Regions from separate parts of the Homo sapiens genome. Here region 2 is linked to region 1. The links come from fine-mapping of genetic effects on gene expression. Tissue or cell type: whole blood. Region 1 holds a variant in brackets; the other region holds the start of a gene. All regions are shown on one strand. Distances are from middle to middle.

The links. PIP is the estimated chance that this variant, and not a neighbour inherited with it, causes the effect.
Region 2: GPR107 starts here. The variant in region 1 is fine-mapped to the expression of GPR107 in whole blood (INTERVAL, PIP 0.97).

The regions. Positions count from the first base shown.
Region 1 is chr9:130,133,544-130,138,919 of GRCh38, forward strand. It overlaps GPR107 (G protein-coupled receptor 107), which reads left to right. Exons shown (of 18, transcript NM_020960.5): 18 at 1,482-5,376. The coding sequence ends at 1,578. Among named protein-coding and RNA genes, the nearest start is that of GPRACR, 8.0 kb to the right of the region's middle. The variant G/A (reference allele first, on the strand shown) is at 2,371.
Region 2 is chr9:130,050,828-130,056,203 of GRCh38, forward strand. GPR107 (G protein-coupled receptor 107) reads left to right here and starts at 3,079. Exons shown (of 18, transcript NM_020960.5): 1 at 3,079-3,246. The coding sequence starts at 3,106. It also overlaps a transcript of FNBP1 not described here. RefSeq lists a silencer at 3,067-3,376.

The DNA.
Region 1 (5,376 bases):
CTGCATCCCCGTCTAGAGAAGGTCCCTTCAGGAGCAGCCCTGTGCACATGGATCCCTCCTGGGGCAAGTGTCTTCCTAAAGAGGCCAGGCCTGAGACACAAGCCAGCTGGCCAGAAGTGACGCTGGGCGGCTTCAGCTGAGGCATTTTCGTCTTAGGGGATGCTTTTAGAGTCACTTATAGCATCTATGGGATCTGGCCACATACCTTGTCCCAACTTTGCCATAAGTACAAATAACCTGTGAGTCTAAAGGACTCGTTTGAGAAAGGTTCCGGCTTGGGGGATTCTTTGAGCCTGGGCATGGTAGCACCATAATGGCAAGAATGAAGAGATGAAGAAGAGGGGGAAGTTTTCTTCCCTTACCCCATACAAACATTTACTTACCATGAGGTCCAGCTGCATGCACTCTAGATGGGTCACATATACGGCCACTGTGTTGCCATTTGTAGGGGAAGGGGTTAGGTAGTTGGCAGAGGGATGGGTTGGGTCCTTGGAAAGAGCCTGTTGAGTTGATTGATTGAATTTATTTTACTGATGAGGAAATTTCTTTTGGTCCACCATGGGGGAGCATAAATCCTCATTGTTTCCTCGCTTGCAGGGAAGATGCTGGGCCAAGCGGCTTTTGACACCCAGTATCTCTGCCTAGTTCTGCTACTCACAGAGCCACCCAGTTCCCTCATAGACCAGCTCACCTTCTGTGAGGCAAGAGATTATCCTCTTGAGAAGGTGGGGCCCGTGCATGTGATTCCTTCTAATGGAAAGGGCTGCCTTGCTCAGCTCCTCATGCCCTGCGAGACCAGCGATCTTCCATTTTTAATCCTTGATTTCAACGAATGGCTCCATGGGGCCTCCTCAGAGCCAGGCACCAACAGACAGAGCCCCGGGAGCTCACAGAGTGGAGGCAGAGGCCATGCGCTGAGGCACAGCCACATGGCCCAGCCCCAGCTAGCAGAAAGCAGCCAGTTCTCTGTCTATAGTGGCCAAAGAATCTTTGATCCTGGAAGGTTCCTCTAAACCTGTGGTTCTGTCCCCTGGCTCAGAAATGATCCATTGTGGCTGCTTATTAAAAATGTCTGGTTGGCTAATTAGCTTTCTTTTCTGAATGTCCATTAAGAGTCAGATTTCAGTCTCATAAGCGTAACTATCACATATCTGTGCGCCACAAAAATTCCGCAAGCTGTGACAAAAAGATTCATGATGATTGTGATAACGATAGCTGGTGTTTATTGATTAGGCACTCTGGAGAATCTCATTTTTCCTCATGACAGTTCTGGAAAGTGAGAATTACTTAAGCACAGAGAGTTCAAGTGACTTGGCCAAGGTTACACAGCTAGTAAGGAACGAACCAGGAATCACACTTAGATTTTGTCTGTTTCAAAAACCAACACCCATCATCAGTCCTAATCACCGTGCTGTGGCAGAGATGGCCTTTTACTAAGAGACTGTGAGATGTTCCTAATTGTTTTTTCTTTCCTTGTTCAGTGTGACAACATCTGGGGTGATGGAAAGTATGAAGAAAGTCAAGAAGGTGACCAACGGCTCCGTGGAGCCCCAGGGCGAGTGGGAAGGCGCCGTGTGACAGAGCCGACCCTGAGGATGGCACTGTCCAAGGAAACTGTTAACTTATTCATAGTCCTATTGGACAGCAGGAGCAGCTCCTACAGTGAACTATTGGCACCACCGACAGTGACACCAGGGCACATGGCTGGAGCACAGTGCCGCGGAAACCTGATTTTGTACTCTCTTTTATGGAAACGATCTGTGGCTGTTTAGAGGCAGCTGGATCCTCTTTCAGGCGGGAATGGGAGGGCGGGCACAGGGAGGAGGAGAGGAAGAGAAAAGGAAGAATTCATTTTTAATTTAGGTTTCTTTTTTTCTTCTTCATTTCGGAGCTCTAAGGTGTATGCAGTTGTGACCCCATGTGTGGGGAAGTGTAGCAAGGACGGCTGGTGGAGGGGGAAGGAGGGTGCGAGGTGTCTGTCTGATGCTTTAGGAAATGTCTACTGAGGACCCTGGGACTTAAGAAGAAGGGCGGGGAGAGTGCCATTGCCTGTTTGGGAGACAAAAATGAACGAAAACAGGTGACTTTGGAAAGCAAAGTCAAAACCCAGTTTAGGATGTAGCACCTGCCCCAGGATTCCTGCCCTCGGCTTTGCCCCAGACCCTTATTCCAGATGCTGAGAGTGACCAGGACAGCAGCTCCTGAGGCCCAGTGGTCTTCTTTCCAACAGGAAAAGAAGGCTGTGATGTCGCTGTCAGGATCATGCCCTGTGGCACAGCACAGGTGGTGGGAGGTGGTTTTCTGACTGAGATGTTGCCTGATGGATGGAAAGAAATGTATTTTTAAGTTCAAAAAGCATTATCCTGTGGC[G/A]TTGCCTGGACATCCACTCCCTGACAGCCCAGAGCAGCACTGTCTGGCTTCCCTTCATGCTTGTGGCTTTGTTGTGTTTGATCAGAATTTTGGGGGAAATGGAAAGTTTTCCTCAAGGAGCAGCTGGGGGCAGAATAGGTAGTATTTAAGCAAATACTTAAGTCCAAGCAAATCATCCCCATTAAAAAGCTTTTCCTGTAGGCTAGTAGGATTTCTAAATAGATGAATTCAACAGACTTGGTCCCCATAGTCCAAGAGTATGTATGTGAAGAAAGTGAGCATGATTCAACAGTTTCACTCTCAGGGATTTTAGGATGGCAAAATACTTCACAGAAACTCAATGATTAAGTTCCCTTCCACACTTCCAGAGCTTGAATGAACACAGGTAGCCACCTAAATTGAGCAGTATTGCAACTCAGAGAGAAAATCATCTGAATAGTAGGACAAGCTCAGAAGGTACATTGTGACTGAGGGCTTAAAAGGAGACCAAAACATGGCCCCATCAGGGAAGCTTCTTAATGCTTGGGGGGCCAGCTAGGTAGGGTTGCTTCCAAAAGCTGGAGCCCACCCCTGCCTAGGGGTTGTCAGAGAGCCACACCTGCAGGGGAACAGGTACCTCCGAGGGTGAGAGTCGTGGTCTCTGGGAGTTGTTTTCTCACCTCTGGCTTAGAAGGGTCAGGCAGAAACCACAGGATGTGGGGTCACACTCACTGTCCCAAGTTTGGGAACCTGAAAAAGTCTCCATTCAGAACATGGTTGTTCTCCCTGTCCCATGCTATCTTATCTTCCTAAATGACTAATGAGGAAGCGGGTGTTCTTTTTCTGCACTTTGATTCGCCATCTGGGTTCTGTAGGGTGCTCTGAAGGTGTGATCTGCCTTCTGGCTGATGTGGAGGAAGAGCAAGCGCCTTCCCAGGCCACAGCTGCTCACCTCTCGGCAGATATTTTAGGCAAGCATCCGTGTGTCTTCCCATCTTCAGGAGAAAGGTAAATGCACCCTAAGTGTTCACTTCTGGACCTTTTTCAAGTTCACTTGGGACTGTGTGACAGAAGGGAGTTGGAGGGAGGATGGGAATATTTTTAACACTTTGTTTTCCTGTGCAGAAACATAATACCAGTTTTCGCAGAAATGTGTCTCAATCTGTGACTACCAAAGCCCTCCTCAGTCCTTCCCTCAGAGGGACACATTTGCTGTTTCTCCCGCAAGCAGATGTTGTGGATGAGGCGATAGACTCCTTGGCAAGAACGAAAGGTGTGATGAAACCTCCCTGCTCGGAAGGGTCTCCGTGGAGGTGTCCTCATTTCACATGCTGGGTTTTGCAAGCGAGGAAGCCAGGCAGTGGAGGAACTAGAGAGAGGCAGGCGTGTGTGTGGACAAGCGCTGGAGCCGCAGCCCTCAGACTGGCACGGGAACGCCAGCGTTGGGTGTTCAGATTCCACGCGTATGTCTGGGCTCACTCACAGCATGGCCGAGTGTCTGCAGTGCTGGTCCTGACCCTTCCAGAGCAGCAGTGGACAGATGAGATAAGACTGTTTCAGAAACAAAGATGGCCACAGCCTTCCTAACAAGCAGGTCATCTGGCCATGTCTGTATTGTAACTGGTAAAAGGCTTCAAGTCAGATTGATGATCAAGAAAAGTCAAAACCCCAGCCCAAGATTGGGAAAGCAGGTGGTGGTTCCAAGCTTTTAAAAAATTATTGAAGCTCTCCATCCTGTTCTGTGAGTGTGTCTTCTCTTTCTCCTTCACGTCATAGCCGTGACCCACCGTTCATCTCTGCTCTTGCGTAAAGATGACCGATGGAGTCCAAAGCCAAGTGGCTTCACCAGCTGACAAGCCACCCTCCTGCAGCCTGAGTTTCACAGTCCACTGGGTTCGTTGTCATGCGGTGTTTGAATGGTTAAGCCCTTGCAGTATTTCAGATCGGGCAAAAAATATCGGATGCACATAGCAGAACCATTGGTGGTATTTATAGCTTTGCTTTGTACTCCTCACTGTTTCTGCCTACGCAAAATATCCATGTTTCCTCTGAGAAATCTGTTGTGGACTGAAAGCGCTGCTGGCTGTGAAATTTAATAAAGTGTGTATGCTTTGCTAGAAAATTATTTCTTGGACAATAGGAACAGTCATTGATCTGTAAATCCTGGCTCTTAACAGTGAGTGGCCAAGGACTTGATCAGCCCATTTCTTGGTCCCTCAGTGCTTTAAAATTTAAGTAGCACTGCATTTTGTAATGTTGAATATGACTCTAGTGACTTGTAGGAGGCACTTGTGAGGAGATGCTTGCTTCAGTGTAAAAGATGCTCATGGCCTGAGTCAGTTGAGTTTTCTTTCAAGAAACCACTTCAGAGTGAAATATCCAGGGTTTCCCCGCCCTGGACATGTCCAGCCTGCCCAGGCAGCACACAGCCCTGTAAGTCCACCTCGTGTGGGTGAGATTTCCTCCTGCGTGATGACCTCATCGCCATCTCTGCTGTCTCATTCCACAGCCTCCCTCCCTCTTCTCTCCTCCTCTGCCCTCGCCCTTCCCCCTTCCCCATCCCCTCCCCCTCCTCCTCTGCCCTCGCCCTTACCCCTCCCCCTTCCCCTTCCGCTCCTCCTCCCTCCTCCACCTCTTTCTCCTCCTCCTTCCCTCCTCCTCCCTCCTCTTCCCTTCTCTGCCATCTTTCTCCCCGTGCCTATTGATCCCACATAGGCTCATTCTGGGTACACCGGCTAAAGGCTTTGGTGCATTGCAGCGTTTTCTCCCAGCAGCTGTGTGAAAGATGCATTTTCTAAGCTAAGGAGAATTTTCTCAAGAGTGGCATACTCATGCCAAATATTATTGCTCTGGGCCATATAGGCTGGTCTTCCTCCACACTAAAATGGGTGTCTTGTTTTGGTACTTAAAACAGTCTACTCCAGGCATCCAGTCCTTACAGACCAAGGAAGAGCATAGCGATGCCTGTTGGAATTGCAGATGCATTCTGGCCTTCTCCCCCGTCCTGAAACATTTTCTTTGAGGAAG
Region 2 (5,376 bases), 83 kb before region 1:
TTTTTGTTTTTGTTTTTGAGACAGAGTCTTGCTCTGTCGCACAGGCTGGAGTGAATTGGTGCAATCATGCTCGCTAATTTTTTTTTTTTTTGAGACAGAATCTCGCTCTGTCACACAGGCTGGAGTGCAATGGTACAATCTGGGCTCACTGTAACCTCCGCTTCCCAAGTTCAAGCGATTCTCCTGTCTCAGCCTCCTGAGTAGCTGGGATTACAGGCATGCGCCACCATGCCTGGCTAATTTTTGTATTTTTAGTAGAGATGGGGTTTTGCCATGTTAGCTAGGCTGGTCTCAGACTCCTGGCCTCAGGTGATCCACTGACCTCAGCCTCCCAAAGTGCTGAGATTACAGGCCTGAGCCACCGCCCCTGGCCTAATTTTTGTATTTTTTGTAGAGAAGGTGTTTCACCATGTTGCCCAGGCTGGTGGCAAACTCCTGGGCTCAAGTTATCCACCAGCCTTGGCCTCCCAAAGTGCTGGGATTACAGGCATGAGACACCAGCCAGGCCTATCAAGTCTTTTGATAAGAAAAACAAATGGCAATTATACTTTCTTAAACTGGAGACTATTAACACATTAATTACTTAAAAGAGTTCTGAAAATGTCCAAACCGATATCAAATAATTATTTAATAATAATAGCACTAGATTCAACACTACACATTCTAGTAGCAACCTTAAGCTGATCCTGAAAAGTTAGAGAAAATAGTCCAGGCAGGGTGGCTTACGCCTGTAATCCAGCAATTTGGTAAGCCGAGGTGAGCAGATCACTTGAGGCCAGGAGTTCAAGACCAGCCTGGCCAACATGGTGAAACCCCATCTCTAGCAAAAATACAAAAATTAGCTGAGCATACTGGCGCACACCTGTGGTCCCAGCTAGGGAGGCTGAGGCATGAGAATCCCTTGAACCTGGGAGGTGGAGACTACAGTGAACAGATGTCACACCACTGCACTCAGTCCTGGGCAACAGTGTCTCTGTCTCAAAAAAAAAAGGAGAGAAAATAGAAAAATAAAATGTACTTGACTAAGAGAGTAAGGCTAAAAGCCAAGCTTAGGAGATCAGTCTTTCCAGCCCCTGCAGGCTTTTTCAGTCAATACCTTAAAGTGTAATGTCCCTTTGAAAATGTTGCCAGGAGAAGCAGGCATAACTTGTTCTGTTACTCAGCCTGTTTGTTTCCAGTTACAGCATCATGATTATGCAAATAATCTTTTCTTGAAACTATGAAATCACATGGCTAAATGTAATTGTCAAGGCAGCAGTTTTCTAGAATTTAAGAAGTAACTGTAGAGAAAATGCTCAACAATGTCTTTGTAGTCAGTTTTCCCTCATTCTTATTCCTCTCAATTCCAAAATAATGACTGGCACAATACAGCTTTCAAATATGTGAAAGAAGAAGATATCCTCTTAAACCCCTGGACAGACAGCACTGGTATGACCCTATGTAGGTCACATGATAATACCCAAGTATAGAGAAGCAAGGAATGCTATGAACCCAGTTTTAAGCCCTTATAAAACTGTTGTCCAGAAACTAAGACAAAAGTCTCCTATTTAAAACTATTTTAATGTTTCATCACTATTGTATTATAAAATGGGATTAAGATTCTTACCTGATTTTTTTTTTATTGAGACAGAGTCTCACTCTGTCACCCAGGCTGGAGTGCAGTGGCATGATCTTGGCTTACTGAAACCTCTGCCTCCCAGGTTCAAGTGCTTCTCCTGCCTCAGCCTCCCCAGTAGCTGGGACTACAGGCGCGCGGCCGTGATGCCCCGCTAATTTTTGTATTTTTAGTAGAGACGAGGTTTTGCCATGTTGCCCAGGCTGGTCCCGAACAACTGACTTTCAAGTGATCCGCCCGCCTCGGCGTTCCAAAGTGCTGGGATTCAGGCGCGAATCACCACCCTGCCAGGCCTCATTTCGTTTTTAGTACAGTATTATATTCAAATTTAAAACCAGAGATTTTCAAAGATGCCACTTAACTTTAAAAGATAAAAAGTACTCCAAAGCAGGTTGGGCGCAGTGACTCACGCCTGTAATCCCAGCACTTTGGGAGGCCGAGGCGGGAGGATAACTTGAGGTCAGGAGTTCGAGACCAGCCTGGCCAACATGGGAGAAACCCCGTGTCTACTAAAAATACAAAAATTAGCCGGGCGTGGTGGCGCAGGCCTGTAATTCTAGTTACTCCAGAGGCTGAGGCAGGAGAATCGCTTGAACCCAGAAGGCGGAGGTTGCAGTGAGCTGAGATCGTGCCATTGCACTCCAGCCTGGGTGACAAGAGCTAGACTCCGTCTCAAAAAAAAGAAGTTCCTATAATTTCTGAAAGAAGCAAAGAAAGTTTCCATACAGAATTAAGAGAAAAATGTTAAGACCCAGACTTGGGGTTGGATGAAATAGCATGAGGCAACAGAACACAGGAGTTAAGAGCTTCCGTGTGATTCCCAGCTCAACCTGGAGCAAATGACTTATTTCTCAGAGCCTCAGTTTGCTTACCTGTAAAGTAGGAATAATGATAATACGTACCTCCTAGCTCATCAAATTGTTCCAAAAATTAAATACAACAAAAGGCCTAACAAATTGCCTCATAAGGGCTCAATCAATCGTATTATTGCAACCATTTCGCTTGTATTTGAGTGTGAAGCGCCTAGAAAACCACAGGACCCCTACGGCGAGCCGGGAATTTTTAGATATTTTCCTCCGAGTCAACGCTCAGTGAAATCAGTTCAATCAGTGGCCCGACACCGTGCGGCTGACACAGCTTATCCCCCGACCCTGAGATCAGGGGTCCCCGGAGCCCAAGGTCGCTTCCAAAGCTCAGCGAGGCGGAGGTGCGGCCCGGGCTGGTCTGGTTCGGCCACCGTTGTTATGGCAACCGCCAATAGGTTGGCTTCATCTCTAACTGAAAGTCTGCACAGGAGCGGCCGATCGAAGGGCCCCGAGGTGGGCAGCACAGGCTCCTCGACGACTTCCTAGGTCGCAATCTCCAGGAAAACGACCACAGGGTCAGCGGAGCTAGCCGCCGAGCCCCGCTCCCCGGGCCCTTCCGGCGGCTGCGCCCTTTCACCCCGGACGTGGGCGGGAGAGGAAGCGGCTGGTGATGCTGGAACAAACATGGCCGCTCTGGCGCCCGTCGGCTCCCCCGCCTCCCGCGGTCCTAGGCTGGCCGCGGGCCTCCGGCTGCTCCCAATGCTGGGTTTGCTGCAGTTGCTGGCCGAGCCTGGCCTGGGCCGCGTCCATCACCTGGCACTCAAGGTAAAGCTTGGCAAGGCCGGGCCGGGGGGCGGAGGCCGAGGCCACTCCCCGGGTTTTAGGGCAACTTTGGCCCATTGGGGACCTCTGAGCCACTGGACCACCTCTTTGCCCCTGGCTGCGGCCTTTCACTGACAGGTGGCGGGGTCTGTGGGGAAGGCGGGTCTGGGCGGCGCTGGGGTCTTCGGGCTGACCGGCACGGGGCGGGAAGACTCGAGCTGAGGGAGGGGAAGGGGCTGAACTGTGGCGTTGCCCCCACGGACTCGGGAGGCTGCTCTTAAATCCCTGCTGGCTTCCCTGAATTCCTCACTCAGGGCAGCCCGATCGCCTTTCTTCTTTCTCCCCTCCAGCTTTTATGCTGGCTTTCCTTGTCCGCGGTCTCCGCTCTTCTGTGCCCTTGTACTGTACCGGCGGTTTGAAGGTACTTGGAACCTTAGCCTCAGTTTCCCATTTCGGTTTAGGGCGCTCTCTGGAGCGAGACTCTAGAGAAGGAATTTCAAATCTTGCTTAAAACACGTGACTGAGAATGTAAAGCCAGCATTAAGGTGTGTCTCTAATCAAAGGGCCTGCTTTTTCTTCCTCTATCCAGCCATTGTCTAGGGAAGAGAGATTTTTGATAAACCTAGAATGATACTCTGGATCTTGCTTTGTAACTAGCAGAGAAAAGACCTCTAAGGCTGAAACGCACCCTAAGGTGGTTCAGCAGTTTACTATATCTGGGAAATTGTCCAGGTGCTGTGGCTCATGCCTGTAATCCCAACACTGGGAGGCCTATGCAGGAGGATTGTTTGAGCCCAGGAGTTCGAGACCAGCCTAGTCAACGTGCTAAGGACCCCCTCCCCAAACCTGTCTCTACAAAAAATTAAAAATTAACCAGGTGTGGTGGCAAACGCCTGCAGCTTCTGGGGAGGCTGAGGCTGGAGGATCACTTGAGCCTAGGAGGTTGAGACTGCAGTGAGCCGTGATTACTCATTGCATTCCAGCCTGAGGAACAGAGCAAGACCCTTTCTCAAAACATATAAACAAAATTAGAGACATAGAAAAGTAAATTGTTATGACCCAAACTCTTGTACATTATTTTCATACCATACAGTCTTCTAAGAAGTGGAACTGTAGGCGGGGCGCGGTGGCTCACGCCTGTAATCCTAGCACTTTGGGAGGCCGAGGCAGGCAGATCACGAGGTGAGGAGATCGAGACCATCCTGGCTAGCACGGTGAAACCCTATCTCTACTAAAAATAAAAAAAAAATTAGCCAGGCGTGGTGGCAGGCGCCTGCAGTCCCAGCTACTCGGGAGGCTAAGGCAGGAGAATGGCGTGAACCTGGGAGGCGCTTGTAGTCCCAGCTACTCGGGAGACTGAGGCAGGAGAATGGCGTGAACCCGGGAGGCGGAGCTTGCAGTGAGCCAAGATCCCGCCACTGCACTCCAGCCTGGGCAACAGCGCGAGACTCCGTCTCAAAAAAAAAAAAAAAAAGAAGTGGAACTGTAGAAAGTTTGTCTTGTAAAAACACATTGTTTTAGCAAACTATGAAGCATTGTATTTTGTTAATGTAGAATTTAAAGAATACAGAATGAAATTAAAAGCCTGGCTTGACTGGGCACGGTGGCTCACACCTATAATCCTAGCACTTTGGGAGGCCGAGGTGGGCGGATCACCTGAGGTCAGGAGTTCGAGACCAGCCTGGCCAACATGGCAAAACCCCTCTCTACTAAAAATACAAATATTAGACGGGCATGGTGGCACATGCCTGTAGTCCCAGCTACTTGGGAGGCTGAGACAGGATAATTGCTTGAACCCGGGAGGCTGAGATTGCAGTGAGCAGAGATCATTGTGCCACTGCACTCCAGTCGGGGCGAAAGAACTATACTCTGTCTCAAATAAATAAATAAATAAATAAATAAATGCAAGCCTGACTGGATCCATACAACCTTACTTTTTGGTAACAACTTTTGTTGTTTGTAGGTAAAAATTATCCTGATTAAAATGGTTCAATCACAGGGGTGGGGGTGGGGCAAGTGAATTTTGACTCTTTGAGAATCTGTTGAGAGCTATAGAACCTCTCTCCAGAAAAGTGCATGTAGAAATGTAGACAAAACTTGGCCGGGCACGGTGGCTCACGCCTGTAATCCCAG